Homo sapiens: one gene and its partner. The main gene of each other region encodes a partner of the protein of the gene in region 2 in a complex. Each region holds a gene or a part of one and is shown on either strand. Other genes may lie near its edges.

Evidence for each region.
Region 1: DDX46 (region 2) and SF3A1 share a complex: the UniProt entries of both Homo sapiens proteins name them as parts of the 17S U2 SnRNP complex.

What each region holds. Positions count from the first base shown.
Region 1 is NC_000022.11:30,335,464-30,350,681, forward strand, and holds part of SF3A1 (splicing factor 3A subunit 1), read right to left. Parts: intron 11,057-15,218; coding exon 10,849-11,056; intron 9,728-10,848; coding exon 9,470-9,727; intron 7,417-9,469; coding exon 7,342-7,416; intron 6,888-7,341; coding exon 6,737-6,887; intron 6,423-6,736; coding exon 6,229-6,422; intron 5,350-6,228; coding exon 5,232-5,349; intron 4,919-5,231; coding exon 4,733-4,918; intron 3,789-4,732; coding exon 3,667-3,788; intron 3,572-3,666; coding exon 3,326-3,571; intron 2,435-3,325; coding exon 2,227-2,434; intron 1,718-2,226; coding exon 1,563-1,717; intron 291-1,562; coding exon 189-290; intron 76-188; coding exon 4-75; intron 1-3. UniProt on the Homo sapiens protein: Component of the 17S U2 SnRNP complex of the spliceosome, a large ribonucleoprotein complex that removes introns from transcribed pre-mRNAs.
Region 2 is NC_000005.10:134,761,528-134,776,745, reverse strand, and holds part of DDX46 (probable ATP-dependent RNA helicase DDX46), read right to left. Parts: intron 12,843-15,218; coding exon 12,654-12,842; intron 9,830-12,653; coding exon 9,686-9,829; intron 5,844-9,685; coding exon 5,747-5,843; intron 3,051-5,746; coding exon 2,885-3,050; intron 1-2,884. UniProt on the Homo sapiens protein: Component of the 17S U2 SnRNP complex of the spliceosome, a large ribonucleoprotein complex that removes introns from transcribed pre-mRNAs.

The DNA of each region.
Region 1 (15,218 bases), on a different chromosome or scaffold from region 2:
CACCTCATACTGTAGCTTCTGTTTCCCTGCAGGCATGCCTGTGGCTTCATGAATCTTCACCTTAATGACAGAGACCTGTGGGATCAAGCAGCGGTCATTCAACTCCTTGGTAAGGCCAGCTAGAGGAAGCTTTCCCCTGAATGCTTGGTTCCCATGCACCTGATGCCAGTTTCTGGCAGTACCCATACCTGGTCCGTGAGTGGGAGGGTGAAGACCAGCACCTGCCCATTCAGTTTCCATTCCGTCTTATCCTGCATGTTGGGCACCTGGACTTTGATGGACACTGGACCCTACAAAACAGGAGGTGGTCATTATGCCTAGGGAGCTCGGAGCCAATCAAGAACTATGCTCTGCTATCCCTAGGCCTGTCCAGACAATGTCACCTGTGCATCTGGGCTCCTGGATTCTGGCCTGATTCACCACTGATAACCCCTTGTGAGGTTGTACAAGTCACCCCCCTTTGCAAGATTAGGTTTCTTTTCTTTAAAACAATCTCTATCTTGTCTCTTGGTGAGTCTGGAGCTAAACTGAAGAACTTTAGTGAAAATACTCTGCACACCCCAAGGGAAAAGAATATGACCTGCAGGGTCGGAAGACCTGGATTCCCAACTCAGCTTCCCAGCTAACAAGGTTTGTCTGAGCCTCAATGTCATTATCCACCAGACAGGGTTCATGACTGTTTTGAGTATTGAGGGGAAGTGTCTGTAAAGTGCTTAGCTCTATCCTGGTACTTAAGCGTTTAAGAAATGGGAACTATTATTAAAAAACAAACAGAGCGGGTGCAGTGGCTCACACCTGTAATCCCAGCACTTTGGGAGGCCAGCGTGGTGGATCACTTACGGCCAGGAGTTCAAGACAAGCCTGGCCAACGTGGCGAAACCCCATCTCTACTAAAATACTAAAAATACAAAAATTAGCTGGGTGTGTGGTGCACACCTGTAATCCCAGCTACTCCGGAGGTTGAGGCATAACAATCACTTGAACCCGGGAGGCAGAGGTTGCAAAAACAAAACGAAACAATTTGGTCAAATACATTGGGGGAGCAGAGGCCGGGGCTGTTTCTGTCTCCTTACTGCAGCCTGACAGCTTCCCTAGTGATTAGCAGTGACAAGGTCCCCACCTCCCCTTATTCCAGGACCCCAACAGGATCCCACCCAACAGGCAGACCTCCTAAGGGCTAGAGCTGGGGAGGAAGGCCACAGTAAATTTTAAAACACCACACACAATTTCCTCCAGGTGTCTAGGGTCCCTCTCACACGTGAGTTGTGCTGCCCGTGCTGCTGGGTCTCCCTGTTGGCCTCTGTAAGTCTACACCAGAGGGACCACCACAGTCACCACCTCTGCCACCACTACCATCACCATCACCACCAATGCTCTCTGCTCCTCCAATTGTTGGCCCCACATTCACTGTGTGCTCAGAAGCCCTTAGATGCCTCCAACAGCTGACCTAGGCCCCAGAAGCCAAGACTGGGAGTGAAATAGGGTCAGTTTCGCAAGTGTACGACAGGGGCGGGACTGAACCCTCCAGCTAGAAACTTCAGCAGCATTCTGGGATTACATACCTTGTTTCTGCGCAGGAACTCCTCCTCTGGCATGAGGCTGTCCTCTGTCTTCAGTTTTTTGGAGGTGGGCTCATCTTCCATGGGAGGTGGGGGATGCACAGGGGGCATTGGGGCTGGAGCTGGGACAGGTGCCACAGGTGGAGCAGGCACAAAGGCTGCAAAGACAAGAATAAGCAGCCCCATGAGAGGGCAGAAGGGGCCCAGGACTCAGGGCTGATGAGAAGTTGAGAGGGAAGGTTGCAAAGGTTTCCTCTAGTCAGAGGTGTCAAGTGCTGTTCCCTGCTAAGTCTGGCAGCCAGCAGGTTCCCTGGCAAGGGGACCTGGGAGGCTGCCCAGATTGGACAGCAGAGGACTGCAGGAGGGGCAGGACTGATGGATGGAGCTAGTGCCAAGCAACAAGCATTTCTCAGGCCTCTGAGCCTGTTGGGGACCTGATCCCTGAATGCACAGACACTGGCTACACCATTTCAGCCTCTCATTTCTACCAGGAACGGTGGCTCCCAGCTCTAGGGTTGCGGATCTTTCAATGGGAAGCCAGGGCTCTCCTCTGGGCTGGATACCCTGCTGGAACAGCTGGCACTAGCATCAGCCACTGCTCTGCTGACAGTACTTGGCCCGTGGTCCCTGAACTAATGGCCTGGAAAATGATGCAAGAGATACTGACCTGTTGGCACAATCATGGGGGGTGGGCGGGGGGCCATAATAGGAGGGGCCGAGGGAGGCATGGGCACCACGTTGATTCTGGGCGCGTGGATGATGGGCGGCATGGGGGCGATCACTGAGCCTGGGGGCAGCCGGACCACAGATGCCATTGGGGGCCGGGGCATGACGGGTACTGCGGAGACAACTGTAGTACGAACTGGAGGTGGCATCTGTGCAGGAAAGAGACCCACAGATTACAGGAAGCCAAAGTTGGACTCCAAGGTCACACACAGTTGGCAACTGGCTGCCTGCAGCTCTGAGGATGGAGGTTAGACAACTACGTCCTGGCCCCCTGGGACTGAGAAACTGTGGCCTACACTGGGCGTCCAATAGGAACTGAGCTGCTGAGAGCCCGAGGATGACACTCTCTCTACTTGGGACTTGGCGGGTCAAACTCGACCTGCTACTTTGGCAAACACTGAAAGAGTCACTAAAGAGGCTGAGACCTTGGCCAGGCACAGTGGCTCATGCCTGTAATCTCAGCACTTTGGGAAGCTAAGGCAGGCAGATCACCGGAGGTCGGGAGTTCGAGACCAGCCTGACCAACACGGAGAAACCTCATCTCTACTAAAAATACAAAATTAGCTGGGCATGGTGGCGCATCCCTGTAATCCCAGCTACTTGGGAGGCTGAGGCACGAGAATCACTTGAACTCGGGAGGCGGAGGTTGCGGTGAGCCAAGATCATGCCATTGCACTCCAGCCTGGGCGACAAGAGCAAAACTTCATCTCAAAAAAAAAAAAAAAAGAGGCCGAGACCTCGACTAAGTCTCTCCTGGAGACAAGCCAACAGTCCTCAAAGACCCAATAAGCCCTGCAGCCCTTCTCTGACGCCAACTGGTTTCTCATATTTGCCACTTACCTCCCTCCCTGTTCCAACCCTCCTCCACAAACAGATCAAGAGAGAGGTTCCCACTTGCATTTAAAGGGCTCTTTCTCTTTCAAACTGACCCACCCAACACTCAGGCCCCACTAAAAGGCAGCTGCACTTCTCAGCCAACAGTGTCCGACCTCAAGAATGAAGCTCTAAAAAAGTCAGTTCCAGGGTAGATGCTGGCTTACTGTGGGTGGTCGGGGCACTGAAGTGATGGGTGGAGCCGAGCTGGGGATGTTGGTGGCTGAAGATGGTGGCGGTGGCTGTTGAGGGATTTCATTGGGCTTGCTGGGGCCAATCTTCTCTTTAGTGTCATCCTCTGGCACCAGGCCTTTGGCCTTGTGAATGGCCTCAATCTGCTCCTGGAGGGTGATGTTGGCCTGGGCAGCCTGCTGGGTCCGGGCCATGCTGCCTGAGTGGCCATCCCAGGTCACCTGCAAGTGAAAGCAAAGCCACAATGCTTCTGGAACTAAGACCAAGTATGGAAGACGGGGGGCAGAGAAGGCACTAGGTTCCACTTTAGCCGCACCTTTTCCTCTGGCTTCTGGATCTCCTCCTCACCGATCTTCTTACCAATGGCTGTTTCCTCTACACCGAAGATGTCAGTACGCCGCTCAGCCAACTGCTTCAAGCTGCTCTCAATATCCAGACCTGTACAGTCACAAAACAGAGGCAGAGGATAGAAAGAGAAAATAAACCAGGTGTCCTGACAAGAGAGCAGCTTTTCTGGTGTGCAGGGAGGAGGCTGGTTCCATGGGATGAGGGTGACTCAGGGCCCCAACTCTTGTCCTCTGGGCTCGGGGAAAGCTGCCCGATCTAAGCCTATAAACCCAGTGCTTGGGCAACCCCTCTGACTTAGAAAAGAACGGTAGGCCAGGCACAGTGGCTCATGCTTGTAATCCCAGCACTTTGGGGGGCCAAGGCAGGAGGATCACATCTGAGGTCAGGAGTTCGAGACCAGCATGGCCAACATAGCGAAACCCCGTCTCTACTGAAAATACAAAAATTAGCCGGGTGTGGTGGTGCGTGCCTGTAATCCCAGCTACTTGGGAGGCTGAGGCAGAAGAACTGCTTGAACGTGAGAGGCGGAAGTTGCAGTAGCCAACATGGAGCCACTGCACTCCAGCCTGGGAGACAGAGTGAAACTCCGTCATTCATAAATAAAACACATAAATAAATAAGATGGTGAGTTAGAGAGGGCAACTGTGTGGAAAGGGCCACATGGTGTAAGTGGCAGAGTCAAAACTAGAAGCCCAGTCTCCCACCTGTGGCACAGTTCCTGCCCCATTCCAAAGAGCTCATGGTACTCCAGCCATCAATGCTCTCCTTCTAAACAGCCACAGGAAGCCCTTCCAGCTAAAGCCAGAGCTTGCTCTGGGATGTCAACAGGCACATGGCATCTCCTTCAGTGTCTGCCTTTGGGGAATTTCTATGGGGAGTTCTTCTGGAAAGTGGGGAGTTCTCTTGCAATATCATAGAGTGCAACTCTCCTCAAAAGCTTTTGTTGACCTCAATTGTTGCTTTCTATGTTTGCTTAGAAGAAGATGGCTGTAATTCGGAGACTACCATGGGCTCTCCTGGAACCCCCACCTCACCTGGTGCGTACACCTCATCATCGCTCTGCTTCTCACGGATGGAGCGATCCCGCTGCTCCAGCCAGCGAGGGTCAAGAAGTCCAATGCGCATGTGTTCCTGCATTTTGCTGGCGGGGATCTTCTCCCCAGTAATGGGGGACACAAGATACTCATCTGGAGCAGGGGCTGGAGGCAAGGGCTTGGAGGCTAAAAGGAAACAGATGTTTCAGTAAGAACACTGGTGGGCAGCCACCTGAGTTAAGAGGGTGGTATTTCATGCGTGCATCATTCATCAAGGCATCTATTCAGTGCCACTCTTGTACCTGGCACTGTGAAAGGCACTAGGGCACCAGAGATGACTGGGCCCTGTTCCCACCATGAAACCTGTAACAGACGGGCTTGCAATGCTTTTACAATAAGCTGCACCTCAAGCCCTCCTAGAAAGACGGGTGTGAGGAACACATGAGGGCACACAGGACTTCCTGGGCAGCCCGAGGGTTGGGAAGCAGGCCCTCCCTACCTTTGGGATCATAATCCTTGCGGACAATGACTTGGTCTGGAGTTGGGGGCAGAGGTGGAGGCATGGGTGTCTCTGGGGGTGGGGGCACTTTCTGCCCTTCTTCTTCATCATCTGAACCCTGAAAAGCAAAGCAATGGCAGGACTCAGAGAGGGGCTGAGGCCACCTCCCTGTAGCTGAGCCTGGCAGGTCTCTGGGTGGCAAGGAGCCTTGGCCTCTGCCAGCCAGCGTCCATGTGCTAAGCCTCCCAGGGCAGCTGAGGCCAGCCGGCAGCAGGCCAAGCTGCTTCCTCACAGCATGAATGGGAGTGCTGAGGCCACGGTCCTAGCACTCCTCCCAGGCATTTCCAGCAGCTGGCACCAGGCAGTCCCAAGAGGCCAAGGGCACTTAACATGCCGGGGGGGGACAGTGCCAAGGGGGCGAGGGGTGGGGGCGGCGAGTCGCCAATCAATGGTAGCTGCTCACACAGCAATGCTGGGAGGGAGAGAAAAAGTCATTTCCCACAGACAGGGGCCCTTTCTTCTCAGGCTGTGCACAAATTATTTCCGAGTGGGGGAGAACAGTCTGGTTCTGGAGACTCCATGCCTGCTTAGAGGGCCTGGCTTGAAGGGGGTAGGGATGCCTGAAAGGAAGCGTGGGCTACATTTAGAAAAGCTCTGGGAGCTTGGAGCCCAGCTGAGAGCTCAAAACAGAACAGGGTAATGCAGTGAGTTCCCTGAGGGCTGGCACGAGGCAGTGAGAGCAGGCTGTCCGGGCCAGGGAGGCGGCCACAGAACAGGTCAGCACAGCTTTTAGATCCTTGCCTATGAATGAATCTTTGTTGCCGGAGCTGGAAAGAGGCTCTGTGCTGCCTGGACTTGGGCAGCTGTATGGCCTTGTTCAGGACCCACGCCTCCTTTCAAGGCTCACAGGGGAGCTGGATCTGACTGGTGGAGAGCACTTCGACCTCCTGGGGCTTCAGGGGAAAAGGTCATCCTGCAGGCCTGCCCAGCAGCTTACCTCATCCATATCTTGTACTTGGGTGTCCTGGTCCAGCTGGGAAGGAGGCTCCTCCGCCTTCTCCTGTTTGTCATCCTCCTCATCAGACTCGACCTCCATCTCAACTTCCTCACTCTCCCCAAACTTTTCATAGCGCTCCTGAATGAGGATTCGGGCCCCCAGCTCCTCTGGCGTGGTGGGGGGAGGGAAGTTCCCTAGAGGGTGAGCCAGAGGCAAAGGTATTCCTTATCAAAGACCCACCTATTTGCCCTGTCTGAGCTCCCCAAGGGCTGGGGCCATGTCTGTTTTCTCTCCAGCTATCTCCAGAGGCCCATCTAGGGTCTGGCAAGTACGTATTGAATCTAAGTTGGGCAAAGTGGTAGAACTGAAGTCTTTTGGGAGCAGGGAGGAGACAGCACTGATAAAGCCCTCTGAGAGATTCTACTGCTCTCTGGGAACACCTGCACCAGGTTTCCCGGGAAGTCTGAGTTCCTGGCTCCCCATCTGGAGTCACTCCTCACAGACCTACCTTGCTCATTGGGTTGGAAGTCCACTGTTTCCACCACCACAAAATCATGCCAGTCGATCTGAGCATAGGCCACCCGCTCCTTCTCCTTCTCCTCTTCTTCCTTCTTCCTCTCACGTTCCTGGAATTTGGCCCATTCCACTCGGTAACACACCTGCAGAGATGGGAAACAGCTTGGTGCTACGCTGAAGCAGGGTCTGCTCCTGATGAGGCTACCACCTCCAGGGCTTTCATCAAAGTCAGCGCCTCCTTCGGAACAGAATGGAAGTATGGTTCCAAACTATGGCATTTGCACCTGGTTCCACCCAGGTGCAGAGTTGGGACAGAATGAAAATTCCACCCTCTGATCTGCTTGGGAGCTGGCCTTCTGTCTTCTAGCTAGAGTGGAAAAGAGGGAGATATATTGAGGCTGAGAGCAAAGCAGAAAGTTGTGGTATGTTGGGAAGCATCCGGACTCCAGGTTTCTTTGGCCTTTGTAGCCAACAAAGCCTTTTCTCCCACCATTCCCATGACTGGAACATAACAAGGTCCTGCCTCAGAGACTGTTTTCAGACATAAAACAGAACCAACCACCAGTAACTGGTTGCAAGAAATGCTATTCAGTTTACCTGATCCAAAACTTCTCGGGGGTTTTCAGCCTCTTTCTTGAGCTTTGAAAATAAACCTTTGGGTGGAATCAAGATCTGAAATACAGAAGAGTTAAAGCAACTGTCAGTGCTTTACAACGCAGTACAAAGAGGCAGCCTTCCTGGGCCTGTGATAAAGCACAGGAGATGAGGAAGCATGGGATTCTGTGTCCCAATCCCAGCTCCACTTGGCTGTGGGACTTAGGGCAAGTTACTTAACCTCAGTAACTTGATTTCCTTCTCCAAAATAATGGCACCACCACTCAAAGTTGGCACCATGAACTTAAAAAGGTGGCTTCGAGGATTAGCAGGAAAGCATGCAAAGCACTAGCCGATTACCCAGAACACGGTCAGTATGAGACGGCTGCTTTCATGACACTGACCTGCTCTCATCCTTTCAAAAACACTACGCAGGTCCCCCCTGACTATCCTATTCAGAACCGCAGCGTACTTGCCCCACCTCCCTCTATTTCTGCTCCCTGCTTTCTCTCTGTAGTATTTAGCACCATGTAACAGACACTGACAATGCACTTGACTCCTCCTCACTAGACTAGAAACTCCATGAAGACAGGGATTTCTCTTTTGTTCACGATTACATCTCCAGCCCCCTGAATAATGTCTGACAATGTATACTTACTGAGAGAACAAATGCTGCCTTTGTTCTAAACAGCCCCAACAGCTTCTACTGCCACTGGCAAAGTGGCTCGGCCCTATCCCAATCCTCCTTCCACCTCTACCCCAAGAATCTATCTGCTCAGTCTTCCATGGCTAGAACAGACAGCAGGAACCTCAAGTTACAGTGGTAAATGCCAATACCCAAGTTCTGAAGAAAAAACAGGAAAGTAACAGAATAAAAAGTGATCTGGGACCTTTAACCCTGGAAGCAGTCCACTGGGAGAAATTAATCCAGGGTTCATTTAAAATTGATATTGCATATTTATAGAAACCCTTGGGCCTTGGGCCTTGAATGACTGTTATTTTAGCTACCATACTAGCTTCTGGATTTGGTCATTTTCTAAACACACACATTGTTAAAATTCTAATTATGTACTTAAAAGTGAGTAGAGTTAGGAAATTCTCAAGTCCTTTCAAGTCAGATCTTTGAGGTGTTGTTTCTGGATATGAAGAAGAGATGTACAGACCATCCCACTGTAAAGGGAAGGAAAACAACCTCCATGACATGTGTAGCAAGAAAAATGTGCCACAGGCAAAGCTGTCAGTGCACTTTGCAATAAATTAATAATCTGATTATTTTAAATGCCAGAACTGACTTGTCCTGATTCTTGATTGCAGCTCTGTCAAATGATAATTGAGTTCTTAGGGTCTGGAGTAAAAATGCCAGAGCTCAAGCCCCAGCCCTGCCACCTCCTAGCTATGTGACCCTGGCCATGCTAACTTCACTGCACCTCAATTTTCTCTTCTGTAAAGTGAACATAGCAATAGTGGCTACCTTATAGGCTACCGGAGATTAAATGAGAAGATGCTGCATACATAATTTCTTAGTGATGTTAGTTATACTGACTTACATGACATCAAAGTGTCTCTCAACACCTATTTAAATGCTGTTTCCAATTTAAGGCACTTTATAAGCTGAAGAACCAAAGTTTTAGGGTCAAATGTGGTTTAAATCTCAGCATAGTACTTACTAGCTGACAGACCTTGAGTACGTGACTTCACCTTTCTGAGCCTGTTTCTGCTTCTCAAACATGGGGGGAAAACACCTCATGGCTTCTTGTGAGGACTAAGTTAGGTAAAAGGAGGCAACTCTTAAAGGTTGGCTTCTTCTCAGGGCCTTACTAGGCAACTGAAAACGGAAATGCACTTAAAAGCAGCAAGCACCACGTGGCCTTGTCACATAGCAGGCAATCGCCTAATGGTAGTTAGCAAGCATGTATTTCCCTTCTCTTTAGAAACCGGCAGTCTGTGTTGCACTTAAAGAAATAACTGAATAGAAATCAAGGTTTTACATTAAACTGGGATTCAAAACATTTGCTCAGAGGCCCCATGGAGAAGCGATGTCCTTGTAGACAGTGAGTGGACACAGTGCTTCCAAGCATAAGATGTTTTCCTTTCCTGGGCCCAGGACCCCAGCCCCATCCTGCCCAGGCACCTTGGTGTACTGTTCCACTAGCTTCGTGAAGTAGTTGAAGAGGCTGTGCTGTGGGCGGAGAAAGTCAAACTGGTAGTTGCGCTGCTCTTTCTGCATCAGCTGGGTCAGAAACTGGCGCCCATTCCTGGCCACAAACTGAGCCGTCAGCTTCACCACATCCAAGTCGAAGGCTGAGATAGAGGGAGGATCAGCAATGAACTCAAACTCAGGAGGAGGCTCTTTGGGCACGATGGTCTCTTGGATTACTTGGGCTTGGACCTAAGATGCAAAGGGAGTATGAGGCGAGAGGCACAGGGGTGAACAGGCTCCAGGGGAGGGGAGGGGAGGGGACATGGGCATGCACCCCTCAGCAGGATGCTGTGAACCTCTAGACTTCTGTTAATTATGCACACACCACTAGCACTTGGTGTGAGAGAATTCTAAATCACAAGAGCATTGACTTCCCAGCCAACTATGGCCTCAACTTCCTGAATGGCTGAGTGAGAACCATTCCCCTCTGTATCTCTGCTCCTGCCTTGAAATTGAGGGCCAAAACTGGGTGACAGAAGATCCAACAAGAATAGGACTTATTAAATCCCATCCAAGAGGGATGGATGTGCAGAAGGCCTACATGTGTGCAGAAAACCCCACTGTACAAAGTGTTTCCATGACCTCCGCATGAACGATGAGGTAGCACAGGTACTGTGAATCCTCTTTACAGATGAAGAAACTGAGGTAGCCTGAGGTCCTAGGCCTCATTGCAACGCAAGGTCTTAGAACCTGACTTCAACCTTTATAGCCCACTGCAAAAGGAGGGACTGCCTTTTCCACCATGGTTCAGGAGTGCAGAAGGCAGGTCTGGACAGGAGGAAAAACATGTCAGCCTCTCTCTTCATTCATAATCCTAATAGTCCCTAGTGCTGGGCCTCAGCACAGGGAAGGTGGTATCAGGGGAGGCCAGGATGGAGGGGTCCTGGGAAGAAGAGATAGAAGGGAAGGGATGGCACAAGGAGGAGCCCACAGGCCACACTGCATCCTTCAGCACAGCCAAGTAGGAAGTGCTGCCCTCACATCACGGCACTGCCCTCACACCCTGAGCAAGGCCTTGAATAAATCACACGTCCCCCAACTCTCAGGTTCCTCATACAGCCTCTGTGAGGAGTCAATGAGACAAGACTCCTGAAGTACCAAGCACAGAGCTTGACAAGCAGTGCTCGGGAAATGCCAACTAACATCAGTACTTTGCTGTCTGGGCCTCGGTCTGCCTCTGAGAGATGGGGATAACGACCTCACTTCTCTCCCTGGGTGGTTGTGAGATTTGGAGTTAATTGTGTACTCCCTCCCTATCCCTGTTTCCCTCTCAAGCCCTGCGTAAGTGAAGGGGGCACTGGGCTCCAAACCTTCTGGGGCAGCTGCTGCTGGGTGGTCTGCTGCTGCTGCTGCATGACCTTGGGGATGGCGGCGGACGGCTCCTGAGCCTTCCCTTCCTTGAACTCGCTGACCTTGTGGCGGTAGTAGGCATGGTAAGGGTCATTGGGGTTCAGAAAGTTGAACTTGGGGTTGTTGATCTCGTTCTGTCGGATCCTAGCTTCAAATTCAGGCCCGTTTCTGGAGGAAGAAAAAACAACAAGAATAAACACCACTCCCTTGTGCCTGCTGTGATCTAGAACACTGCCCATTGGAACGTCCTTCTTGCCACCACCCACTGCTCAAACCAGCCCATCCCTCAGCAGACGTCCTCCTCTAGCTTCCTGGCATTGGCGATCAGTGCCATCTGCCTCATTCAGCTTGAACCAGGCCACCTCTGCCACAGGGTTTCCCTGAACCCAGTCATTCCTTAGCTCCTTTTCCAGTTCTGCCATTTCCAAAACCATCTAGGCTATCGCTCATTTCTTTTAATAAAATTTACTTTAAAAAAAATCTATTTAAGATGGAGAATACATATTACTACTTCAAATAAAAAAAAATCAGTATGCCTTTACCAACAAAAGGTAGTCAAAAGTGAACATAATGAAAACAAAGTAATACTGTCAAAGTTTAGCTGGAAGTTTGCTGAGACTAATTCTCTTAGTTCAAAGGGGTAGCAAGTGCTGGAGAGGTGTAAAAGGTACATGAGCACCAAACCTAGACTTTGTCCTCTGAGTAACAAGAAAGACTGAAAGACATGAAAATTTAGTTGATTTGAGCCTGGGCAACAAGAAAAGACCCTAACTCTACAAAAAAATATAAAAATAAATTAACTGGGCATGGTGGTGTGTGCCTCTAGTCCCAGCTACTCAGGAGGCTGAGGTGGGAGGATCACTTGTGCCCAGGAGTCTGAGGCTGCAGTGGGCTAGAATCGTGTCACCGTATTCCAGCCTGGAAAACAGAGCAAGACCCTGTCTTTAAGAAACAAACAAACAAACAAAAAACAAATAGTTGGTTTAACGCCTTGTCCAAGTACTCCCTAAAACCACCCCCATTATACTGGTGAGGCCCACACAGGAAACATCCTCAGCAAAAACCCAGACTCGTACAGCTGTATAAGGCACCTTCAGATGACAGGGGTGTGGTAAGATCAGCAGGGAGGTCTCCAACCACTGTCTGTACCTGGGATGGTTCCCCAGATATGCCCCATGTCCCCAGCAAGCCTTCAAAACCTCAGGATAATGAAAAAATGTCCCTATAATGATGTTTAGGGAACCCTGATTTTTAAAATGTCCCAACAGTAATATTCAAAGTGCCACACTTATATACAACACCTGTGTCAGTCAGAAAGTACACGGACCTTAAAGACACAAGATATGAACACGTTCAAGTCTCAGGTTCACTGCTGACTCACTCTGACCCACAGCAAGTTACCAAACTACTCTTTGCTTCCATTTCCCCATGTGTAAAATGCAGCTAACACCAGTTTCCCTTTCTACCTTGAAACATTATTGAGGAGATGCCAAAGTGTTTTTGTTTTATAGACAGGGTCTCACTCTGTCACCCAGGCTGGAGTGCAGTGGTACAATCTCAGCTCACTGCAACCTCCACCTCCTGGGCTCAAGGGATCCTCCCACCTCAGCCTCCTGAGTAGCTGGGACTACAGGCATATACCACCATGCTCGGCTAATTTTTTTTTTACATTTTGTAGAGACGGGGTTTCACCATGTTGCTCAGGCTGGTCTCAAACTCCTGCGCTTAAGCGCCTTGGCCTCCCAAAGTGATAGGATTATAGGCGTGAGCCACTGAACCCAGCCCTCAAAGTCTTTTCAAATCGTACAGTGGCCTGCAAATGCAAGGGGCTAGGAGGGGTTGTTCCATAAACATTGTCTGTGGGGCCTTCCATTGCTCCTCTGGCGAGAACCTTGTACTTAGAACTGCCCCAAACACACCAAGGCATGGCCCCGGCATCTGGTGCCAGCTAGCCAGCTCCACTCTTCAGACTTTCATATCCCTGGCCTGTGAGTTTAAGAGGGGGTGGGAGCCCGGCACAGTGGCGCACACTTGTAGTCCCAGCTACTCAGGAGGCTGAGGCGAGAGGATCACTTGAGCCCAGAAGATCATACCCAAGCCTGGGCAACAAAATGAAATTTCACCTCTGAAAACAAAAATTTTTTAAATTTTTTTTAAGACAGATGGCAGGAGACAGGGTACAGGCAGTGCTGTGCCCCAGATCAACCACCACAGCAATTATGTGCCACACTAGTGATCGACACCCAGGCTGGCTCCTCAGCAAGTCGTGGTCATACCCTGCCGTGTAACTAACACCATGAGGTCTCAATTTGACAGTATATTAGTCTAACTGGAACCTCATGCTTTGGAAAAAAAATTCTCCCTACTCCTTAAATAATGCAAACCACACATAAGAATGAAGGTGAATGCACACTTAAATCCTGCTAAACTAGGCCACTATACCCAGCAAATGCCTCGGGCAGACAAAGGGCTCCTGGAAAAAGGGGCCCTGGTTGTCTCCTGTACCACTGCCTAAGCCATAACTTTACCCCATCTGGGAACAATCTGAAAAATAAAACAATGAGAAGGCTTGGCATGTTCATTCCAAGCTATTCAGTTGCTTTAAATTAGCTTAACGTTAATTTTAGAATCATACTCTCCACCAGAAGGAATAGATTTCAACAGAAAAAGACATGATTCTGACTCAACCCAGCTGGTGGGACTTTTTAAGGGTAATTTCCACTTCAGTTTCTTGACAGGAACATGCAGGAAATGAAAAGGCCTAACCTAGCGAAAAAACTTTTGGAAAACCGCTCAGTTGTGCATTTCTACTGCATGCTCCATAAATATACGTGAACCCAGGAGAAGTGAAGCACAGAGTTCTGCATGCCTGCTTTAACTCGGATATTGGTCTCTTTGTTGCAATGTAAACGATAAGTTCACAGATTTTATTTATTTATTTACTTTTGAGGCGGAGTCTCGCTCCGTCACCCAGGTGGGAGTGCAGTGGCACAATCTTGGCTCACTGCAACCTCTGCCTCCCGGGTTCAAACGATTCTTCTGCCTCAGCCTCCCAAGTAGCTGGGACTACAGGCGCCCGCCACCACACCTGGCTAATTTTTTGTATTTTTAGTAGAGACGAGGTTTCACTATGCTGGCCAGGCTGGTCTTGAACTCCTGACCTCAGGTGATCTGCCCACCTCAGTTTCCCAAAGTGCTGGGATTACAGGTGTAAGCCACCACACTGGCTCACAGATTTTAGAAATGCCTACAAAAGCAATCACCATAGCTAAAAATCAATCTAGGGATGTGCATGGTTTTGGATTTTTTTCTTTCTTTTTTTTTTTTTTTTTGAGATAGGGTCTTGCTCTATCGCCCCAGGCTGGAGTACGCTGGCATGATCATACCCTTGACCTCTCAGGCTCAAGTGATCCTCCCAAGTGGCTAGAAATACAGATATGCGCCACCATGCCCAGCTAATTTTTTTATTTTTTGTAGAGACAGGGGTCTCACTATATTGCCTACACTGGTGTCCAAGTCCTGGGTTCAAGCGATCCTCCCACCCTGGCCTCCCAAAGTGCTGGGATTACAGGCGTGAGCCACCTAACCTGGTCATATATATTTAAAGGGACCTTGGATATCCTCTTATTTCTTTAGCAGCAGAGGATGGCACAAAATTATTGGAAAGCTACTTGGCAAAATGTTTAAGAAATCTTTTAAGGATGCTCTTTTAGCCAATAATGAGCCACACAGAATTTTCTTCTAAGGAAACGATCTAAAAGGGAAAGAAAATGCTCAGAGATTTCCCCACAGCTTAATTTGCCAAAATGAAATGTTGGGAACAGGCCAGGTGCGGTGGTCACTGCCTGTAATCCCAGCCACCTTGTGGTGGCTGAGACATGAGGATCACTTGAGGCCAGGAGTTCAAGACCAACCTGAGCAACACAGAAAGACCCCATCTATACAAAAAAACTAAAAAAAATAAAAAAAATAAAAAAAAAATTAGCTGGGTGTGGTGGCAGGCACCTGTAGTCCTAGCTACTCAGGAAGCTGAGGTGGGAGGATAACTTGAGCCCAGGAGTTCAAGGCTGCAGTGAGCTGTTATCATGCCACTGCACTCCTGCCTGCGTGTCAGAACGAGACTCTGTCTCTAAAAAAGAAATGTTGGAAACCTCCTCCTCTAAGGAAAATACAGAAATGGTGGCCAAGTCAAGGAAAGCCTTTCACCTCTACATGGTGCATCCCCTTAATAAAGGACCACAGGGCATTATGAAGACCATGGAGCAAAATGGAAAAATGCTTACAACACAGAGTGGAATATCTTTACTAGTATTACAAGGATCTAAAAAAA
Region 2 (15,218 bases):
ACGGGGTTTCACCATGTTTGTCAGGCTGGTCTCGAACTCCTGACCTTGTGATCCACCCACCTCAGCCTCCCAAAGTGTTGGGATTACAGGCGTGAGCCACTGCACCCAGCTAAATGACATTTTCAATTACAGTTGATCCCTGAACAACATAGGTTTGAACTGCATGGGTCCACATGGAAGCAAATTTTCTTCCACCTTTGCCACCCCAGAGACAAGACCAACTCCTCCTCCTCTTCTTCCTTCTCAGCCTACTCAATGTGAAGACAACAAGGATGAAGACCTTTAAGATGATCTACTTCAACTTAATGGACAGTAAGTATATTTTTGCTTTCTCGTAATTCTTTTTTTTTTTTTCTAGACAGTCTCACTCTGTTGCCAGGCTGGAGTGCAGTGGCACCATCTCGGCTCACTGACGGCAACCTTCACCTCCCAGGTTCAAGTGATTCTTCTGCCTCAGCCTCCCGAGTAGCTGGGACTACAGGTGTGCGCCACCACACCAAGCTAATTTTTGTATTTTTAGTAGAGACGGAGTTTCACCATGTTGGCCAGGATGATCTTGATCTCTTGACCTTGTGAACCACCTGCCTCAGCCTCCCAAAGCGCTGGGATTACAGGCATGCACCAGCGCGCCCAGCCTCTAATTCTCTTAATAACATTCTTTTCTCCCGCTTACCATATTAAAATAATACAGTATTCAATACATAAAGCATACAAAGTATGTGTTATTCAACTGTTCATGTTATTGGTGAACAGTAAGCAGGTAATGCTTAGTTTCTGGGGAGTAAAAAGTTACATATGGATATTTCACTGTGTGGGGGTTGGTGTGCTTAGCTACCAAGTTGTTCAAGGGTCAACTGTATTTTTCTTTCAATTACCTTTCAATCACAGAAGATAGCATATCTCAGTTATGTAAAAAAGATTAGATTGTCTAGAATTAAGACATCACGACTACTTGGCTGGGCGTAATGGCTCACACTTGTAATCCCACTGCTTTGGGAGGCCGAGGCAGGTGGATCACGAGGTCAGGCGTTTGAGACTAGCCTGGCCAACATAGTGAAACCCCATCTCTACTAAAAATAGGCCAAGGCGGGCGGATCACAAGGTTAGGAGTTTGACACCAACCTGGCCAGTGTGGTGAAACCTCGTCTCTACTAAAAATACAAAAAAATTAGCTGGGCGTGGTGGTGTACACCTGTAATCCCAGCTACTCAGGAGGCTGAGGCAGAGAATTTCTTGAACCTGGGAGGTGGAGGTTGCAGTGAGCCGAGATCACGGCACTGCACTCAAGCGTAGGCAACAGAGCGAAAAAAAAAAGACATCATGACTACTTATAGATAGAATCTATTTAAACCATTCTTTGGAACTTTCACAGACAATGGACCAAAATCCCATTTTCCTATAAAATTCTACAATCTCCTACTTTACTAAAATCTCGAAAGTCAAAATCAGATGTGAAGGGAAATGTTTCCATCCTAAATTATGAAATATCAGCAGCCAGGCACAGTGGCTCCTGCCTGTAATCCCAACACTGAGAAAGGTCAAAGCAGCAGGCTCTCTTGACCCCAGGAGCTCAAGACTAGCTGGGTAACATATCGAGACCCTGGCTCTTCAAAAAATGACAAAATTAGCTGGGCATGGTGGCTCACGCCTGTAATCCCAGCACTATGGGAGGCCAAAGTGGGAGGATCACCTGAGGTCAGGAGTTCAAGACCGGCCTGGCCAACATATTTTTGTACTAAAAATACAAAAATTATCCAGGCATGGTGGCAGGTGCCTGTAATCCTGACTACTTGAAAAGCTGAGGCGCAAGAGAATAGCTTGAACCTGGGAGGCGGAGACTGCAGTGCCGCCTGGGTGACAGAGCAAGACTCTGTCAAAAAAGAAAAAAGAAAAAGACAAAATTAGCCAGGCATGGTGGCTACTCTGGAAGCTGAGGCAGAAAAATCACTTGAGCCCAGGACGTCGAGGCTGCAGTGAACTATGACTGTGCCACTGCACTCCAGCCTAGGCAAGAGAATGAAACTCTATCTCCAAAAACATGAAAAAGAAAAGAAAAATCAGAGGAGGCACTTGAAAGCATGCCCTTAATTTACTCTCCTTACTAACGTTCACATTGGTATAATATATTAAAGAACTATTTACTGGCTATGCCCAATAACACTCAATGATTCATTCTAAAGTAAAATCAGTGATGCTTACTAAACACAATTCTATATTTCAAATTACAACATAAATATTAAAAGGAGCTTTTACAATCTCAATTCCACTTCTGGGTATATAGTTCACAGAACTCAATACAGAGACTCAAACAGATATTTATACACCAATGGTCACAGGAGCATTACTCACGATAACAAAAGGGTGGAAACAACCAAATTATCCAATGGCAGGTGAATGAACAAACAAAACTTGGCATATATATACAGTGAAATATTATTCAGCCATATAAAGAAAGGAAATTCCAACATGCTACAACATACATGCACCTTGAAGACATTATGCTAAGTGAAATAAGCCAGACACAAAAAGACAAATATGTATTATGATTCCACTTATGTGAGGTAGCTAGACTAAACAAATTCAGAGACAGAAAATAGAGCAAAGGTCACAAGAAGTAGCGAGAAAAGGCGTCATAGAGTTATTTAAAAGGTGCAGAGTTTCTGTATGGAATGACGAAAAAGTCATGGAAACAGACAGTGGTAACGACTGCACAACACTGCAAATGTATTTATCACTGAATTGAAACCTGAAAATGATGAAAATGGTAAACAGCATATTATGCATAGTTTTCAACAATAAAAAAGATTAAAAACCCCTTATGAAATATTATTCATATAATATTCTACATGAGGTGTTATACAGGCTATTAGGCTAAAAAATATACCATCATCGTCCTCTAAACTCCACTTTTTCCCTTGTTTCATCTCTTCGATTTCCTTTTTCAGTTCTCCTATGTTTTCCATAGCCTTTTTACGTTGCTCTTCTCGCCATTTTTCTACTCTTTCTTTTCGCTTTCTCATTTCTTCTTCCAGCTTATTCTGGTCAAAGTTCTTGGGGGAATAAAAGAAAGAAAGAGATGGGGGAAAATAAAAAGCAAAACCAAATTTAATAATTTTGCTCCAAGTGACATTCCAGTAAGTTCTTCAAAGTATAAAGAAGGGGAAAAAAGGCATATATACAAACCCCTCAGGGTAGACTTAGATCACATACCTTTATAAATATACACACAAATATATTACCAAAATGAAATCACAAAAAAAGCATCTTCAAATAAGAAAGCCAAAAGATAGATTTCAAACACTATAAATCAATCTCATTTTACTTACAAGCATTATGCACACATAAACTTTATTTCTTCCTAACAACAGAAACTAAAGTAATTAGCAAGCAAAGTTTCCCAGTTATTCTCAATTTTAATCCCCTAAACGCCTCCAAAATTGCCTCTATGAAAAGCAATTTTCTATTACAAGTTAGAAAATAAACGACATCAACATGATAAAGAAATTTTATGGCCAGGCACATGGTACATGTCTGTGGTCCCAGCTACCTGGGAAGCTGAGGCTAGAGGATCCCTTGAGCACAGGAGGTTGAGATCAGCCTCAGCAACAAAGGGAGACTCTGTGTTATTAAAAAAATACAAGTTTATGGCCAGGCATGGTGGCTTACACCTGTAATCCCAGCACTGTGGGAAGCTGAGGCTGGAGGATCCCTTGAGGTCAGGAGTTGGAAACCACCCTGGCCAACATGGTGAAACCCTGTCTCTACTAAAAACACAAAAATTAGCTGGGCATGGTTCCCCATTCCTGTAGTTCCTCCTTCAGGAGGCTGAAGCAGGAGAATTGCTTCGACTCAGGAGGCAGAGGTTGCAGCGAGCTGAGATCACGCCATTGTACTCCGGCCTCAGCAACAAGAGCAGAACTCCGTCTCAAAAAAATGAATAGGCCAGATACGGTGGCTCATGCTTGTAATTCCAGTGCTTTGGGAGGCAGAGGCAGGCAGATTGCCTGAGGTCAGGAGTTCAAGACCAGTCTGGCCAACAGGGGGAAACCCCATTTCTACGAAAAATACCAAAAAATTAGCTGGGCGTGGTGGCATGCACCTGTAATCCCAGCTACTCAGGAGGCTGAGGCAGGGGAACTGCTTGAACTCCCAAATTCCTGGGATTACAGGCATGAGCCACAGCACCTGGCCTCATGTCTAAATTCTTAAGTCTACATTTTTTTTTTCCAGACAGAGTCTCGCAGTCACCAGGCTGGAGTGCATTGGCGGGATCTCAGCTCACTGCAATCTCCAAGTCCGGGGTTCAAGCCATTCTCCTATCTCAGCCTCCCGAGTAGCTGGGATTACAGGCACATACAACCACACCCAGCTAATTTTTGTATTTTTAGTAGAGACAGGGTTTCACCATGGTGGCCAAGATGATCTCAATCTCTTGACCTCGTGATCTACCCACCTTGGCCTCCCGAACTGCTGAGATTACAGGCACGAGCCACCATGCCTGGCCTTCACATTTGAGACAGAGTTTCGCTCTTGTTGCCCAGGCTGGAGTGCAATGGTGTGATTTTTGGCTCACTGCAACCTCTGCCTCCCAGGTTCAAGTGATTCTCCTGCCTCAGTCTCCCAAGTAGCTGGGATTACAGGCATGCGCCATCACGCCTGGCTAATTTTTGTATTTTTAGTAGTGACGGGGTTTTACCATGTTGGTCAGGCTGGTCTCGAACTCCTGACCTCAGATGATCCACCTGCCTTGGCCTCCCAAAGTGGTGAGATTACAGGCACGAGCCACTGTGCCCAGCCTTAAGTCGAAATTTATACAAATTTTTTGGAAGGCAATTGATAATGTTTATATGGTAAGACTGCACTTTGTATGTAAAAACAGATATTGCGTATAGATGTGCAACTTCTTTTAGAAAATTTTCCCACAGGGGTAAATATTATTTAATCTTCCTTTTTTATCTTTCACATCTGGTTATTTTAAAATAAAGCTTACAGCATTAAAAAGAAAAAAATTTGTTGGCATAGAAACAAGTTTGTTTTGATTTTTGAGACAGAGTCTTGCTCTGTCACCCAGGCTGGAGTACAGTGGCCCAATCTCGGCTCACTGCAAGCTCTGCCTCCCGGGTTCACACCATTCTCCTGGCTTAGCCTCCCAAGTAGCTGGGACTACAGGCGCCTGCCACCACGCCTAGCTAATCTTTTTTTTTTTTTTGTATTTTTAGTAGAGACAGGGTTTCACCATGTTAGCCAGGATAGCTTTGATCTCCTGACCTCATGATCCACCCGCCTCGGCCTCCCAAAGTGCTGGGATTACAGGCGTGAGCCACCGTGCCTGGCCCATAGAAACAAGTTTGATGGCCAGGCACGGTGGCTCACACCTGTAATCTCAGCACTTTGGGGGTCCGAGGCAGGGGGATCACAAGGTCAGGAGTTCAAGACCAGCCTGGCCAACACAGTGAAACCCCATCTCTACTAAAAATACAAAAATTAGCTGGGCATGGTGGCGCATGCCTATAGTCCCAACTACTTGGGAGGCTGAGGCAGGAGAATTGCTTGAACTCAGGAGCCGAGAATGTGCCACTGCACTCCAGCCTGGGCAACAGAGACAGACAGAAAGAAAGACAGAAAGAAAGACAGACAGAAAAGAAAGAAAGAAAGAGAAAGAAAGAAAGAAAGAGGGAAAGAAAGAAAAGAAAGAAAGAAAGACAAAAAGAAAGAAAGAAAATTATTTTTAAGTTAATAAACATACGCCAGCATCTTTTTCTTTTTCATCCTCCTTGTCATCTTTGTCTTTTTTCTTCTCTTTAGAACTTTCCCCACCATCAGTTTTCTCTTTGGACCTAGATCTACCAAAAAAATAAAAGAGACAAGAGAAATGTCATTCATTTGTACTTAGAAACATTCATTTTTAAATACTTTTTTTTTTTTTTTTGAGACAGTGTCTCACTCTGTCGCCCAGACTGGAGTGGAGTGAAATGGTGCGATCTCAGCTCACTGCAACCTCCACCTCCCGGGTTCAAGCGATTCTCCTGTCACAGACTCCCGAATAGCTGAGATTACAGGTGCCAGCCACCACACTCATATAATTTTTGTATTTTTAGTAGAGACAGGTTTTCACCATGTTGGCCAGGCTGGTCCTGAACTTCTAACCTCAGGTGATCTGCCCACCTCAGCCTCTCAATGTGCTGGGATTATAGGCATGAGCCACCTCGCCCGGCCTTAAAATACTTTTACAGGTGGGGTAAGGTGCCTCACACTTATATACCCAGCACTTTGGGAAGCCAAGGCAGGAGGATCAATTGAAAACAGGAGTTAAAGAGATCAGCCAGGGGAACATAACAAGATCCAATCTTTCCAAAATATACTAAGAATTAGCTGGGTATGGTGGTGTGCACCTGCAGTCCTACCTACTGAGGAGGCAGAAACAAGACGATCACTTGAGCCCAGTAGTTCGAGGCTGCAGTCAGCTATGATCCCATCACTGCACTCAAGCTTGGGTGACAAAGTGAGACCCTGTCTCTTTTTAAAAAAAAAAAAAAAAAAAAAAAATTTGGTCAGGCATAGTGGCTCATGCCTGTAAGCTCAGTATTTTGGGAGGCCAAGGCAGGAAGATCACTTGAGCCCAGGAGTTCGAGACCAGCCAGGATAATACAGTGAGACCTCGTCTCTATTAAATTAAAACAAAAAATACATAAGTACACTTATTAGACTTGTATTCCAATATTTAGGTAAGAAATAAACTTCTAAGAGTCAACTGTGTTTTCATATTCCATTAACAAACACCTGGAGGCTGGGCATGGTGGCTCATGCCTCTAATCTCAGCACTTTGAGAGGCCAAGGCAGGCAGATCACGAGGTCAGGAGATCGAGACCATCCTGGCCAATATGGTGAAACCCCAACTCGGCCGGGCGCGGTGGCTCACGCCTGTAATCCCAGCACTCTGTGAGGCCGAGGCAGGTGGATCACATGAGGTTAGGAGTTCTAGACCAGCCTGACCAACATGGTGAAACCCTGTCTCTACTAAAAGTACAAAAATTAGCCGGGCTTGGTGGCAGGCGCCTGTAATCCCAGCTACTCAGGGGTGGGAGGCCGAGGCAGGAGAATCACTTGAACTCGGGAGGCGGAGGTTGCAGTGAGCCGAGATTGCACCATTGCCCACCAGCCTGGGAGACAAGAGCAAAACTTCACCTCAAAAAAAAAAAAAAAACAAACAAAAAAAACAAACCCCGTCTCTACTAAAAAATACAAAAATCAGCTGGGTATGGTGGCACGTGCCTGTAATCTCAGCTATTCAGGAGGCTGAGGCAGGAGAATAGCCTGAACCAGGGAGTCAGAGGTTGCAATGAGCTGATATTGCACAACTACATTCCAGCCTGACGACAGAGCAAGATTCTGCCTCAAAAAAAAAAAAAAAAAAAAAACCTTGAAAATATAACGAAAAAAATTAATCCCATGACACTAATGGGAAGCATTACTAAATATTTGGAAATTCAACCCAAGAAAAACTGAACATACTACATACAAACAATATAGTTTGTTTATAGGTAGGATAGTTAAAATGTGATAAATGAAGAAACAGACCAATATATTAATATTCTGCAAGATAATTTATATATGTAATAACGTTTAAAATCCCAAGGGACATGCATTTCGAATGTTCTAATGTTCTAATGATTTTAGGGGATTTTTTTGAGACGGAGTCTCTCTCTGTCGGCCAGGCTGGAGTGCAGTGGCGCAATCTCGGCTCACTGCAACCTCCACCTCCCGGCTTCAAGTGATTCTCCTGCCTCAGCCTCCCGAGTAGCTGGGATCACAGGTGTGTGCCACCACACCTGACTAATTTTTTACTTTTAGTAAAGACGAGGTTTCACCATGTTGGTCAGACTGGTCTCAAACTCCTGACCTCGTGATCCATCCACCTCGGCCTCCCAAAGTGCTAGGATTACAGGCGTGAGCCACTTCACCCAGACTTCTAATGATTTTTTAATGTTAAAATAACCTGCCATTCTTGGAATAAACCCAACTTGTTTACGCACCCCAACTTACGGCATCTCATAATGAATAAAATTTCTTAATTTTAATGTAATCAAATTAGTCAACCTTTTTTCTCCTTTATAATTGGTGCTTTTTAAAGTAGTTTAGAAATCCTTCCAGATTTGATGTAAGATACCTAGAGGTGAAGAAGAAGATACTCTCTGGCACAAACTTCTAAAAGGTTTAGAATTTTGCCATCTAATTTGGTCTTTGCTTGGAATTGCTTTTTGTACACAGAATAAGGTAGGCAGTCTTATTTCATAAAAGGATACTAGATATCCCTAGAGCAATTTAAAAATTTTTCTGGCCAGGCACGGTGGCTCACGCCTTTAATCCCAGCACTTTGGGAGGCCGAGGCGGGTGGATCACGAGATCAGGAGATCGAGACCATTCTGGCTAACACGGTGAAACCCCATCTCTACTAAAAAATACAAAAAATTAGCTGGGCATGTTGGCACACACCTGCAGTCCCAGCTACTCGGGAGGCTGAGGCAAGAGAATTACTTGAACCCGGGAGGCGAAGGTTGCAGTGAGCCGAGATTGCACCACTGCATTCCAGCCAGGGCAACAGAACGAGACTTTGGCTGTTAAAAAAAAAAAAAAAATCTTCACTTATTACATCATCACCTCTGTCATCTATCAAATTACCATGTGTATGGATGCCTTTCTGGGCTCTTTACATGGTTCACTAATCTGTCTGTCCACTGCTAAACAAATTGCACATTGTCTTAATTTCTGTTAACTTTTTTTTGTTTTTTTTTTTTGAGAAGGAGTTTCACTCTTGTTGCCCAGGCTGGAGTGCAACGGCATGATCTCACCTCACCGCAACCTCTGCCTCCTGGGTTCAAGCGATTCTCCGGCCTCAGCCTCCAGAGTAGCTGGGATTACAGGCATACGCCACCACGCCCAGCTAATTTTGTATTTTTAGTAGAGACGGGGTTTATCCACAATGGTCAGGCTGGTCGCCAACTCCCAACCTCAGGTGATCCGCCCACCTTGGCCTCCCAAAGTGCAAGGATTACAGGCGTCAGCCACCGCGCCTGGCCTAATTTCTTAACTTTTAAGACAAGTCTTGGCTGGGCGCGGTGGCTCAGGCCTGTAATCCCAGCACTTTGGGAAGCCGAGGTGGGCAGATCACTTGAGGTCAGGAGTTCGAGACCAGCCTGGCAAACATGCCAAAACCCCATCTCCACTAAAAACATAAAAATTAGCTGGGATATTATGTCTGCCTCTTCATATAATCCCAGGACTTTTGGAGGCCTAGGTGAGAGGATTGCTTGAGTCTACAAGTTTAAGGTTAGTGAGCTATGTTCTTGCCACTTCACTCCAGCCTGGGCAACAGAGTGAGACCCTGCCTGAAAAGAAAATGACAGAGTTTCTACAAAGATGTCTATAAAATACATTTCTGATTGACAGTTATGTATTAAGTAAGAATACAATGTATTGAATGTTAAAACTGACAGAATCTATTATTTTCCAGTTGAATTATAAACATTATAGCCAATTAAAATAAAACACTGCCAACAGTTCATGGTAGGAGCCAAATGCAGTTAATTCTCTATAAATACAAACTTACAGGGAAAAAAAAAAAAGGCGCAGAGAAGGGAAGCAGTCCCCAGTCTGCACTATAGATGCAGCCCAATGATAACATTACCTATTCTCAGTTTTCTTGCTTTTATTTCCAGGACTGGAGGATCGGGATCGCCGGCCCCGGCTTCTACTCCTTGAGCGTCTCCTGTCTCTACTTCGAGATCTTCTTCGCTCTCGGCTTCTGTCTCTCTCTCTACTTCTGGAACGTCTGAAAGGGGGACACTTTTCATTTATTCTATGACCAAATGGAGCTACTATTTCAGATCAGGGGATTCTGTCCCACATTGAAAGAATCTTAATCACTACCATTATTAAAGGTGGAGGTCTCAATGAAGTAAAGCCAAGTCTTATAAGTGCTCAACGAAAAAAATGAGAATACTAATTTATTTCTTTCATTTTTTTAAAGACAAAGTCTCACACCTGTCACCCAGGCTGGAGTGCAGTGGCACAATTGCAGCTCACTGCAACCTCTGCCTTCTGGGTTCAAGTGATTCTCCTGCCTCAGCCTCCCCAGCAGCTGGGATTACAGATGTGCATCACCATGCCCGGCTAATTTTTTTTTTTTTTTTGGAGACAGAGTTTTGCTCTTGTTGCCCAGGCTGGAGTGCAATGGCGCAATCTCAGCTCACCACAACCTCCATCTCCTGGGTTAAAGCGATTCTCTTGCCTCAGCCTCCTGAGTAGCTGGGATTACAGGCATGCACCACCATGCCCAGCCAATTTTGTATTTTTACAGATGGGGTTTCTCCATGTTGGTCAGGCTGGTCTCGAACTCCCAACCGCAGGTGATCTGCCTGCCTCAGCCTCCCAAAGTGCTGGGATTACAGGCGTGAGCCACCATGCCAGGCCAGAGAATACTAATTTCATAAAGATGTTTGTGAAAAAACCATAATAAGTCTGTAATTAACATCGATTGAAAATCGATGGTCTAAGATAGAATATCTAGTTTCAGATAGCCTAAACCTAAGTATAAGGATGGGCATAATGGGTCTACTAAAAGATCACTAATCTGAAGATGAAGAGGCAAGAATTTCTATCCTGCTACTCCTGGTAACTAATGACATGATGAAGGTCAGATCTCCAACTTTCTGGGTCTCAGTTTCATCATCTATAAAATATGGAGACTTCACTAGACATCTTTAAAATCCCTCTTGCTCTAAAATCTTGTGATTCTACTTTCACACCCAAAAGTCAAAGACCAAATGTTAAATAACCATTTTCACTTAAGTACTTGAATTAATTGTGTGAAATTGTTCCTAGGACCACAAAATGTGAAAATGCTATCCACATTGTCACGGGTGAATATTTTCCCTGAATCCTACGTAACAACAATGTACTCCAATGTCTGAAAAGGATAAAGTTAAATTCTTTCTATGATCCACTCACAACACAATCTTGTCTTCCTTTCCTATTTTAATGAGAAACTGGGCAAGGTATGGTATCTCATACCTGTAGTCCCAACCCTTTGGGAGGCCACTAGCAACACAGTTAAGACCCCCATCTCTATGAAAAGCTTTTTTTAATTGGCTGGGTGTGGTGTGCACAGAAGATTATTTTCTTTTTTTCTGTTTTGAGATGGAGTCCTGATCTGTCGCCCAGGCTGGAGTACAGTGGCACCATGTCGGCTCACTACAACCTCCACCTCCCAGGTTCAAGCAAGTCTCCTGCCTCAGCTTCCCGAGCAGCTGGGTTTACAGGCATGCACCACCACACCTGGCTAATTTTTTTTTTTTTTTTTTTTTTAGTAGAGACGGGGTTTCACCATGTTGGCCAGGCTGGTCTCAAACTCCTGACCTCGTGATTCACCCACCTTGGCCTCCCAAAGTGCTGGGATTACAGGCATGAGCCACCATACCTGGCCAACTTTGTCACTATTAAAAATACAAAAATTATCCAGGCTTTGTGGAGCATGCCTGTAATCCCAGTTACTCAAGAGGCTGAGGCATGAGAATCACTTGAACCCGGGAGGCAGAGGTTCCAGTGAGCCTAGATCGTGCCACTGCACTCCAGCCTGGGTGACAGAGTGAGACTCTGTCTCAAAAAAAAAATAAATTAAAAAAAAAAAAAAGATTAAGGCGCTCTTTAGTTTAAATCTATGACAGCTCATTAAAATAGTTTAAGAGGCTTGGAGAGGGTCTGCTTTGTTTCCTTTTTCTGCCTGCTTTAGAGGCTGCTCTAAACACACTGTTTAGCAAAATGAAGAAAGAAAGAGAAAGAGAGAAAGAGTGAGGGAGGAAGGGAGAGAGAGTGGAAGGGAAGGAGATAGGGAGGAAGGAAGAGAGAGATGGAGGAAGGGAGGGAGGGAAGGAGGGAGAGAGGAAGGAAATTTTACAAATTTCAACAAGGGTGGCAAAAAAAAAAGGAAAGAAAATTAACACCTTGGTCAGCTCTCCTGGAGCAGAATTGGAATAGAACCCTCTTGAATATAACTTATTACTTTACTTTTTACTTCATTTTGTATGTCCCTCAGAGGGCTTCAAGGGATGTCTTTGGGTTACAGGAAATACAGCCTAAAGTTTCCAAACTAAAAACACTGTTTGATGGTCGGACACGGTGGCTCACACATGTAATCCCAGCACTTTGGGAGGCCAAGGTGGGAGGATCACATGAGGCCAGGAGATCGAGAGCAGCCTGGCCAACATGGCAAAACACCGTCTCTTTTAAAGACACAAAAATTAGACAGGTGTGGTGGTGCACATCTGAAATCCCAGCTACTTGGCAGGCTTAGGCATGAGAATCGCTTGAACCCAGGAGGTGGAGGTTGCAGTGAGCAGAGATGATACCACTGCACTCCAGTCTGAGCAACAGAGTGAGGCTCTGTCTCAAAAAAGATTAAAAAAAAAAAAAAACACTGTTTGATAGAGTCTTTGTAGGCACATCCTTCTGGGTCTAATCAAACAAGTAGGGGATAAAGAAAAGGGCCTGCAATTGGGCCACCAAACTCCAGTTGAAAACATACTTTTCAAGAAGCCTGCTATAGCCGAGAAGGCCCAATTTATCACTCGTCTTTTGGAAATTAATTAATGTCTTACCTCAGACGCTTCCTGTCCCTTGACCGAGATCTTCTTTTATCCCTGCTACGAGACCTCTCTCTCCTCCTATCTCTATCTCTACTTCTAGACCGTCTGTCATCTCCACGTTTACTTCTTTTGTCTGAGGGTGAGCGACTTCTAGACCGACTTCCAGAGCGACCCCGGGATGCCGATCGTTTTCGATAGTGGCTAGAACAATAAGTCAAAGATTAAGTTCAGCAAACACCATTAGCTTCTATTACATTTTATTACATTTTTTCTAAAAATAATTTCAGCAGACAAATTTAACACTCAAAGAACTTTTTATGAATTTTTCTAAAATTAGGAGGGAAAAAATGAACCCTTCTGCTTCAGCACAGACACATGTAGAGGTGGAAAATCTGTCTTGAAAGAGAGGCAAGGACAGTGAACAAAACAGACCAAGCTCCTGCCTTTGAGCTCCAGGCAGCTTACACTCCGGTAAAGGAAAAGACGGCAGACAAGTGAAGAAACAAACACTGTATATAGTATGTTTATATACAATATAAATATGACATTTGTTACAGAGGCTTGGAGGAAATAAAGGAGCCATGTAGATATACAGGGAATTTTCCACGCAAAAGGCACAAGTGCAAAGTCCCTAAAGAGGAAGCTTGACTGGTGAGTTTAAGGAACAGCAAGGATGCCAGTTGTGGCTAGTGTTGAAAGAGTGACACAGCGTGCCATAAGACGAGGTCAGAAAAACAGCAGGGAAGCCAAACCTGGAAGGCCTTACTGGCCATTATATAAGGACTCTGTCTTTTACACCAAGATGAAAATCTACTGGAAGACTTTAAGCAGAGGAGTGACACAACCTCATTAATGTTTTTATTTTTATTTTTAGAAACAGGCCTCACTCTATTATCCAGGATAGAGTGCAGTGATGTGCTCACAGTTCACTGCAACTTCAACTCTCTGAGGCTCAAGCAATCCTCCCACTTCAGCCTCCCAAGAAGCCGGAACTTCAGGCATGCGTCACCACACTTAGCTAATTATTATTATTATTTTTTTTTTTTGAGAAAGAGTCTGGCTCTGTTGCCTAGGCTGGAGTGCAGTGGCACAATCTCAGCTCACTGCAAGCTCCACCTCCCGGGTTCACACCATTCTCCTGCCTCAGCCTCCCGAGTAGCTAGGACTATAGGCGTCCGCCATTACGCCAGGCTAAATTTTTTTTGCATTTTTAGAAGAGATGGGGTTTCACCATGTTAGCCAGGATGGTCTCGATCTCCTGACCTCGTGATCCACCTGCCTCAGCCTCCCAAAGTGCTGGGATTACAGGCTTGGGCCACTGCGCCCGGCCACTCAGCTAATTATTTTTATTTTATTTTATTTATTTTTTTTGAGACAGAGTCGCACTCTTGTTGCCCAGGCTGGAATGCAATAGCACCATCTCAGCTCACTGCAACCTCTGCCTCCCAGGTTCAAGCAATCCTCCTACCTCAGCCTCCCAAGCAGCTGGGATTACAGGCCTATACTACCACGCCCAGCCAGTTTCGTATCTTTAGTAGATGAGGCAGTTTCACCACATTGGTCAGGCTGGTCTGGAACTCCTGACCTCAGGTGATCTACCTGCCTCAGCCTCCCAAAGTGCTGGGATGGATTACAGGCATGAGCCACCGCATGCAGCCTTTTTATCATTTTTTTAAATTTCTTTTTTGAGACAAGGTCTCACTCTGTCACCCAGGCTGGAATGCAGCAGCTCAATTGCTACTCACTGTAACCTCAACCTACTGGGCCCCAGCAATCCTTCCACCTCAATCTCCAGAGTAGCTGAGACCAAAGGCACACACCACCGCGCCCACCAATTTTTTTTTTTTTTTTTTTTGGGTAGAGATGGTGTCTCACTATGTTGCTCAGGATTGTCTTAACCTCCCGGCCTCAAGCATCTTCCCACCTCAGCCTCCCAAGTAGCTGGGACCAAAAGCATAAAAGCGTGTGCCACTATGCCCACCTATTTATTTCTTTTTATTTTTCATTTTTGTAGAGATGGAGTCTTGCTATGTTGCTCAGGATGGTCTCAAACTCCTGGGCTCAAGCAATCCTTCCACTTAATGTAATCCCAAAATGCTGGGATTACAGGTGTGAGCCACTGCACCTGGCCTAATGTTTTTAAAGTATTATTCTGGTTGCTGAGAGAACAAACCAAACAAAGGGAGGCAAGGACAAAAGGAGAAAGAATAGGCAGGATTAGCAAAGACCAGCACTATAGCAATCATCCAGGCATGAGATAGTGGTGGCATAGATCAAAATGGAAGGTGGAAAGATTTTGAGAAATATCAAAATCTGGATATCTTGAAGCTAGCACCGATGGGATTTAATGATGAACTAAATGTCAAGTGTGACAGCAAGAGAGAAATCACTCAGTTGCCATTTACCAAGATGGGAAGGCTGAGGGAGAAATCCAGGGAGAAGGTGGATCAGAATATTAGGTATCCAAGTGGAGATATATAGTATATAGTTGAAATATTAGCCTGTAGTTCAAGGAAGAGGTTTCTCTAGAAATATAAACTGGACAGCTATTAGTGTACAAAGGCTATTTAAAGCTAT